Linked DNA regions of Homo sapiens: region 2 is linked to region 1. The links come from fine-mapping of genetic effects on gene expression. A gene starts in region 1. The other region holds a variant in brackets. All regions are shown on one strand. Distances are between the middles of the regions. Region 1 holds the start of CLIC5 (chloride intracellular channel 5). Region 2 overlaps CLIC5 (chloride intracellular channel 5).

The links.
Region 2: its variant is fine-mapped to the expression of CLIC5 in tibial artery (GTEx, PIP 0.98).

Annotation. Positions count from the first base shown.
Region 1 is chr6:46,014,632-46,017,538 of GRCh38, reverse strand. CLIC5 (chloride intracellular channel 5) reads left to right here and starts at 1,679. Exons shown (of 6, transcript NM_016929.5): 1 at 1,679-2,059. The coding sequence starts at 1,997. RefSeq lists enhancers at 877-1,721, 1,722-2,566 and a silencer at 1,979-2,028.
Region 2 is chr6:45,967,309-45,970,215 of GRCh38, reverse strand. The region is part of intron 1 of CLIC5 (chloride intracellular channel 5); the gene reads left to right. Among named protein-coding and RNA genes, the nearest start is that of CLIC5, 47 kb to the left of the region's middle. The variant C/G (reference allele first, on the strand shown) is at 1,430.

The DNA.
Region 1 (2,907 bases):
AGTTGAGAGGACAGGCTCAAGTCTGTCTGGGTTTAAATCCTGACTTCACCATTTCCTAGCTGAATGACTAGGGATAAGTTACTTAAATACTTCATGTCTCAGTTTCCCCACTTGTAAAATTGGGATCATTATACTATTTGTAAATATTATACAAGTTCACACATGTAAAGTGCTCAACATTTTTGCCTAGCACATAATAAGTATTATTACTTATTTTTTTATTAAGCGATAAATTTTTTAATAAAGCTATTAAACAAATACATGTTTTTAGTAAGGAAGGACATAGCACAAACAGGATTAATTAAAGAGAAGGCAAAGAAGACAAAGAGAATTCCACCAGATTCTGGTGCAAAACATTCAATAATTATTTTTTAAAGAACTGAAGGGTGGGAATGTCTGTTGGTGCAACCACTTTAGAAAACCTATGGCAGTGTTTACACAAGGAGAGCATTCTTATACACTACAACTCAGCAAGTCCACTCCTAAGTATACATCCAAGAGAAAAGTGTCTGTGAATCCAACCAAAAGATGTTTGATAGAGAGAATGTTCGTGACAGAGTAGTCATGATAGTCACCTGCACAAATGTCCATTGACAGAAGAATGAATAAGTAAGTGTGTCGGTGAAAATGGATGATACACAACTACACATAGCACAATGGATGAATCTCACAAACATAGTAATGAGCGAAAGAAGCCAGACACCAACATTCCAGGCAAAAAGATCCTATGCTGCTACAAGCCAGAATAATGGTTACCCTGGGACAGTGGAGACGGGAGAAAAGATGTGGAGAGGAGAGAGCAGGAGGAGCTTCTAGGGCTGTGGCTAACATTTTATTCTTCATCTGGCGCTCGTTACATGGGTGGGTTGGATTGTGAAAATTCATTGAGGCATACACCTAAGATATGTGCATCTTTTCTGTGTTTGCATCCTACTTCACTAAAACAACCAGAAGAGAACGGGAATGAAGTAAGATCAGAAAATAAAGGAAGAAATAGAAAGAAAATGAAAGAAGGGAGAAGAAAAATAAACAAACCCAGAAGGCTGAAAGGCATGGAAGCCGCACCTGACCGGGTTGACTCACCCCTCTGCCCCAGGAGCCACCCCTGCCCTGCCCTGCCCGTCCCCAGCACCCTACTCTCCTTTTGCTTAGCCCAAGGATGGCAAATGCCCCTTTTGGTGGGGGTTCTGAGCATCACTAAGACAGGAAGGGCTTTCCAAGTGGGTAAGGCTGGTAGTGGAGTAACTCGGAGGAGCTGACGCTTTATTAAAGAAACAGAAGACTTGAGAGCCATCTCCTCTCTTCCTTCCCCTTCCCCTTTCCCCTTCCTCTTCCCCTTCCCCTTTCCCCTTCCTCTTCCCCTTCCCCTTTCCCCTTCCTCTTCCCCTTCCCCTTTCCCCTTCCTCTTCCCCTTCCCCTTTCCCCTTCCTCTTCCCCTTCCCCTTCTCCTCGACTCTTTCTGCCTTCGCCTCATTATCCGCCCCCAGGACATCCTCTTGGCCTTGGTGGCTTTGCCAGGACCAGCTCTGTCTCCGCCTCCTGCCCTGCGGGGTCTTGGGGCGGGGGGCCGTGGCCCGGCCCAGGCCCGAGCTGCCGGGGTGTCCCCGCCGCGTCCCCGCCCGGCTGACCCCGCCCTGCAGCCGCCGGCTATTTTGGGCGCGTTGGCGGCGGCGGGATCGCTGACAGTCGCGGATCCTGTGACACCTCCGGGCAGCCCGGCACTTGTTGCTCCCACGACCTGTTGTCATTCCCTTAACCCGGCTTTCCCCGTGGCCCCCCGCCTCCTCCCGGCTTCGCTCCTTTTCATGTGAGCATCTGGGACACTGATCTCTCAGACCCCGCTGCTCGGGCTGGAGAATAGATGGTTTTGTGAAAAATTAAACACCGCCCTGAAGAGGAGCCCCGCTGGGCAGCGGCAGGAGCGCAGAGTGCTGGCCCAGGTGCTGCAGAGGTGGCGCCTCCCCGGCCCGGGACGGTAGCCCCGGGCGCCAACGGCATGACAGACTCGGCGACAGCTAACGGGGACGACAGGGACCCCGAGATCGAGCTCTTTGTGAAGGTAGGTCGGGGTCCAGTCTCCCGCCGCACCTGCCGCGCCTCCCGCCGGGCTCACCCACCAGGGCTCGGGGTGCGCTGGACTCCGGACCCTCCCAGGAGGGCGGCGCGGAGCCCTGTGCTCCCCCGTGGCCTTTCCGCAGGCCAGCGCCCCGCTGCGAGGCTCCTGGGCGGAATGGAGGAAGGCAGGTTCCGGCAGGTGGCCGTCTTCTCGGAGAGTTGATCCGCAGTTTGTCCACCCCCGTCCCCGCCTCCGCTGTCACCGCTGCGAGTCCGAGTCCAGAGCCCAGCCCGGACGCGATTCAGGCTGGTCCTGAAAGACGTCTCCAGGTGTCGGGATGCGGCAGAAACCTGGCTGGACCCGTGAACCTTTCCTTTAAAACGGGAGGAGGGGGAGGAATGGGAGAGAAACGTTATTGACACAATGATCTTTGGCAAAGCGAAAATGACATTTCTTAAAATTCTCTTTCTCTCTTTCGCTCAGAGATCCTAAAATAAAAGCCAAGGAGACAAAAGTGTTTTCTTGCTTGGTGACTTGCAAAGCAGAAAACAAGCACTCCATTCTCCGACGTTATTATTTTTGTCATAATCATGATTTTTCAAGGCAGTATCAAGGAAATGTTAGGCGTTTGGTAGTAGGGAGAGCCTCCCGTTCAACCTGATGCAGACAGGGATGAAGGAGCACAGTGCAAATTAAATGAAGTCACCTTGCTCCTTGGACAGAAACTGCCTAATGTCAGAGCTGCTGTACTTTATTTGCAACCTGTAGGAGGAAGGATGGAGGCGAGGCTGCGGCGGCGTTTCCCGGTCCGCCGGTGTAAGGAGAAAGAAACATTTGATCAGCCCTTGGTG
Region 2 (2,907 bases), 47 kb after region 1:
GGCTCAGAAGAAATTAGTTGGGTGGGCCCACATGACAGGGGCACTTGGCTGGGAGAAACATTTCCCTGTTGCACAGTGGCAGAGAAGGACTTTCTCCAGACCTGTGACCTTTAATGTGCTGGCTGGGGGTGAGGAGAGGGAGGAAGGAGGAATGGGCCCAGAGGGCAGAGTGACCTTGAAGATGGCAGATGCACTGAGTGCTTTCTGCCAGGCACTGCGCCCCCATTTTACTTGTGTTATCTCCCCTAATCCTCCCAATCACCCTAGGCGGGAGAAGAAGGAACATAGTGAGAAAAGACAGCTACACAGCTTCCCTTCTATCCTTCCCCTGGGAGCTCAGGACCTGTCGTAGGAGTGTGGCTTTCTGTCTTTACCCTGAGTAAATCCTCCACGATTAAAAAAAAAAAAAAAAAAAAAAACCTTGATGTGAATGTGAATCCATACCATTCAATAACAAGGCAGGATTTTTCTTCCTCTGTCTTCAGCAGTTTACTCTTTTAAGGGAATAAAATGAAAGATAAGCAAGGGTTAGCAGGAACATCTCTCGAAGATGACTTTCCAAAGGATTCAGTTCTGTTTTTCCTGTCTTCCCTGATTATGTCTAAATTACATACGTTCACGATTTTGACTGAGATTTCAGCCATCTCCATTCAATAGCAAACTCCATCCCTACCGATCGTCTATGTGGCCTTGGAAAAGTCATCTGAAGTCTTTGGATCTCAACTGCCCTAGTCTGAAGGAGTTGGATAGAGCAGGAGGGGGTGGGGGCGGGGACATGGGGTGGGGACAGCCTTCCAAAAAGGGTGCTTCTTCAACTGCTTTTTAAGGTAAGGTGCTGAGAATACTATGGAAAGATGCTACAGAGAAGTTGTGAGAAGGCAGAGCCCAGAAGCAGCTAGCAAAGGTGGTCACAGGTGGTTCTTCCTTTGTGGCCTGATTTTCCTTGCAATCTACAGTGCTGGCCCCTCCCCTGCAGATCCAGCTGCCTGTGTTTTCAGAATAGAATGCTAGTCCACAAGCTCTTTCATCCTCTCGGCAAACATTTATCCAGCCCGTGCTGTGAGCCATGCATGGTGCTGGGAGAGAGGACTGTAGTAGCTTGTGGAGTCTCTACTCAGCCATTGGAATTTTTAGGTGCAAATAAAAGATTTAGTTATTTTCACCTTCTCCTAGCCACATTTTAGGAACAGAGTGTCTTTCAAGCCCATCTTTTCTAATTTATTCACTTTAAAAATAACAAGATTAAGACCCAGAGAGGGAAAATTACTTGCCCTAGGTCACACAACTCTTTGTGCCAAAACTAGGTCTGGAACGCAGAACTCTTAATCTTCTGCTTTTTATTACATTGCCCCAAATTGCTTAAAGGGCTACCCAGGGAATTCAGTTCACCAGGGAACATCTTGCTTCTCCAAACATTCTTGCTAACAAA[C/G]ATCTTACTGCACAAGTATAGGAAGATGTCACTATTACAAATTCATAGCACTCATATTAACGGCAAAGCTAAAACATTCCTATAGTCACCCGCCTCCAATTAATTAAAAAGGAATGTGTTGTTTTTGAAGTCTTGCCCTTCCAACCAGCCTTGAAGTAATTTTAAATAGAAAATTTTAAATGGAAATTAAGGCAGTTTTGTGATAAGAGTGCCTGCCCTTTGGTCTGGGGCATCCATTGTGTGAGCTAGTTTTTCAGAGCTGCAGAAGTAACAAGTTGGCAGGATCTCACATAGGAGATAATAGATAAAAACCTACATGTCTGGTTTCAGGACCCCCAGGAAGCTATTGTTGCCCTTCTTCCTTCTTTCCCAGTTCTTTAATCAGTTTCTGGCAGACACCTGCAACCCCACTATTGAAGCTTCATCTCGTTGCTTACATCTGGGCCATGATAAATAAAAGTACCCCAGGAGGAATAAGTGCTTAGCAGTTACCAACAATTCATACTTAAATGTGAATGCTTTCAGAGTTGGCATTGAGAGATACAAGTGGGGAGAGGCATGCTGGCCAAGAGTGGCTGAGGGGTTTAGAGATGCATGATGGTGGAGATAGCAGATTGGGAAGACACAGAGACCCCCAGAAGATGAGCATTTGACTGCCTTATGGCTTTGCCTGTGACTAGGCTGGGGTCCTCAGAATGGAGGAAGAAAGGGAACTAGAGAAATTCTGCATGGGTTTTCCTAATAGAGCATGAAGAAGATCTGCTTGGAATTCCCTGCACACCCACTGATATGGTTTGAATGTGTGTCCCCGCCAAATCTCATGTTGAAATGTGATTCCCAATATTGGAGGCAGGGCCTGGTGGGAGGTGTTTGGATCATGGGGTTGGTTCCCTCCTGACTTTGTGCCCTCCCCATGGTAATGAGTGAGTTCTCGCTCTGATAGTTCACAGGAGAGCTGTGGTTTAAAGGATCCTGGTTCCTCTCTCTCTCTCTCTCTTGCCCCTGCTTTTGCCATGGAAAGTGCCTGCTCCCATTTTGCTTTCCACTATGATCATAAGCTTCCTGAGGCCCTAACCAGAAGCTAAGCAAATGCTGGCATGGCACTTGTACAGCCTGCAGGACCATCAGCCAACTAAATCTCTTTTCAATATAAATTACCCAGTCTCAGGTATTTCTTTACAGAACACAAAAACAGCCTAATACACCTGCATTGTTCAATCCAGCCTCCAGGCATGTGCTTATGCCATCACTTCTGCCTGGATGGCCTTACCTGCCACTTTGTATGAATAAACTCTCTTACCTTTGAGGCTCACATTAGGCATTGTTGCTGCCCCAAATCCTTCCGTGAACCCTTAGGTGGGCTCCTTCCTGTCCCCACTCCACCCATTCTCTACTACTACTGCACTTCAGTGATGACCTGGCCATCATGTCTTTACCTTTTGCTGCCTCTGTTGTGTGATAGCTTCTCAAGAGAGGGA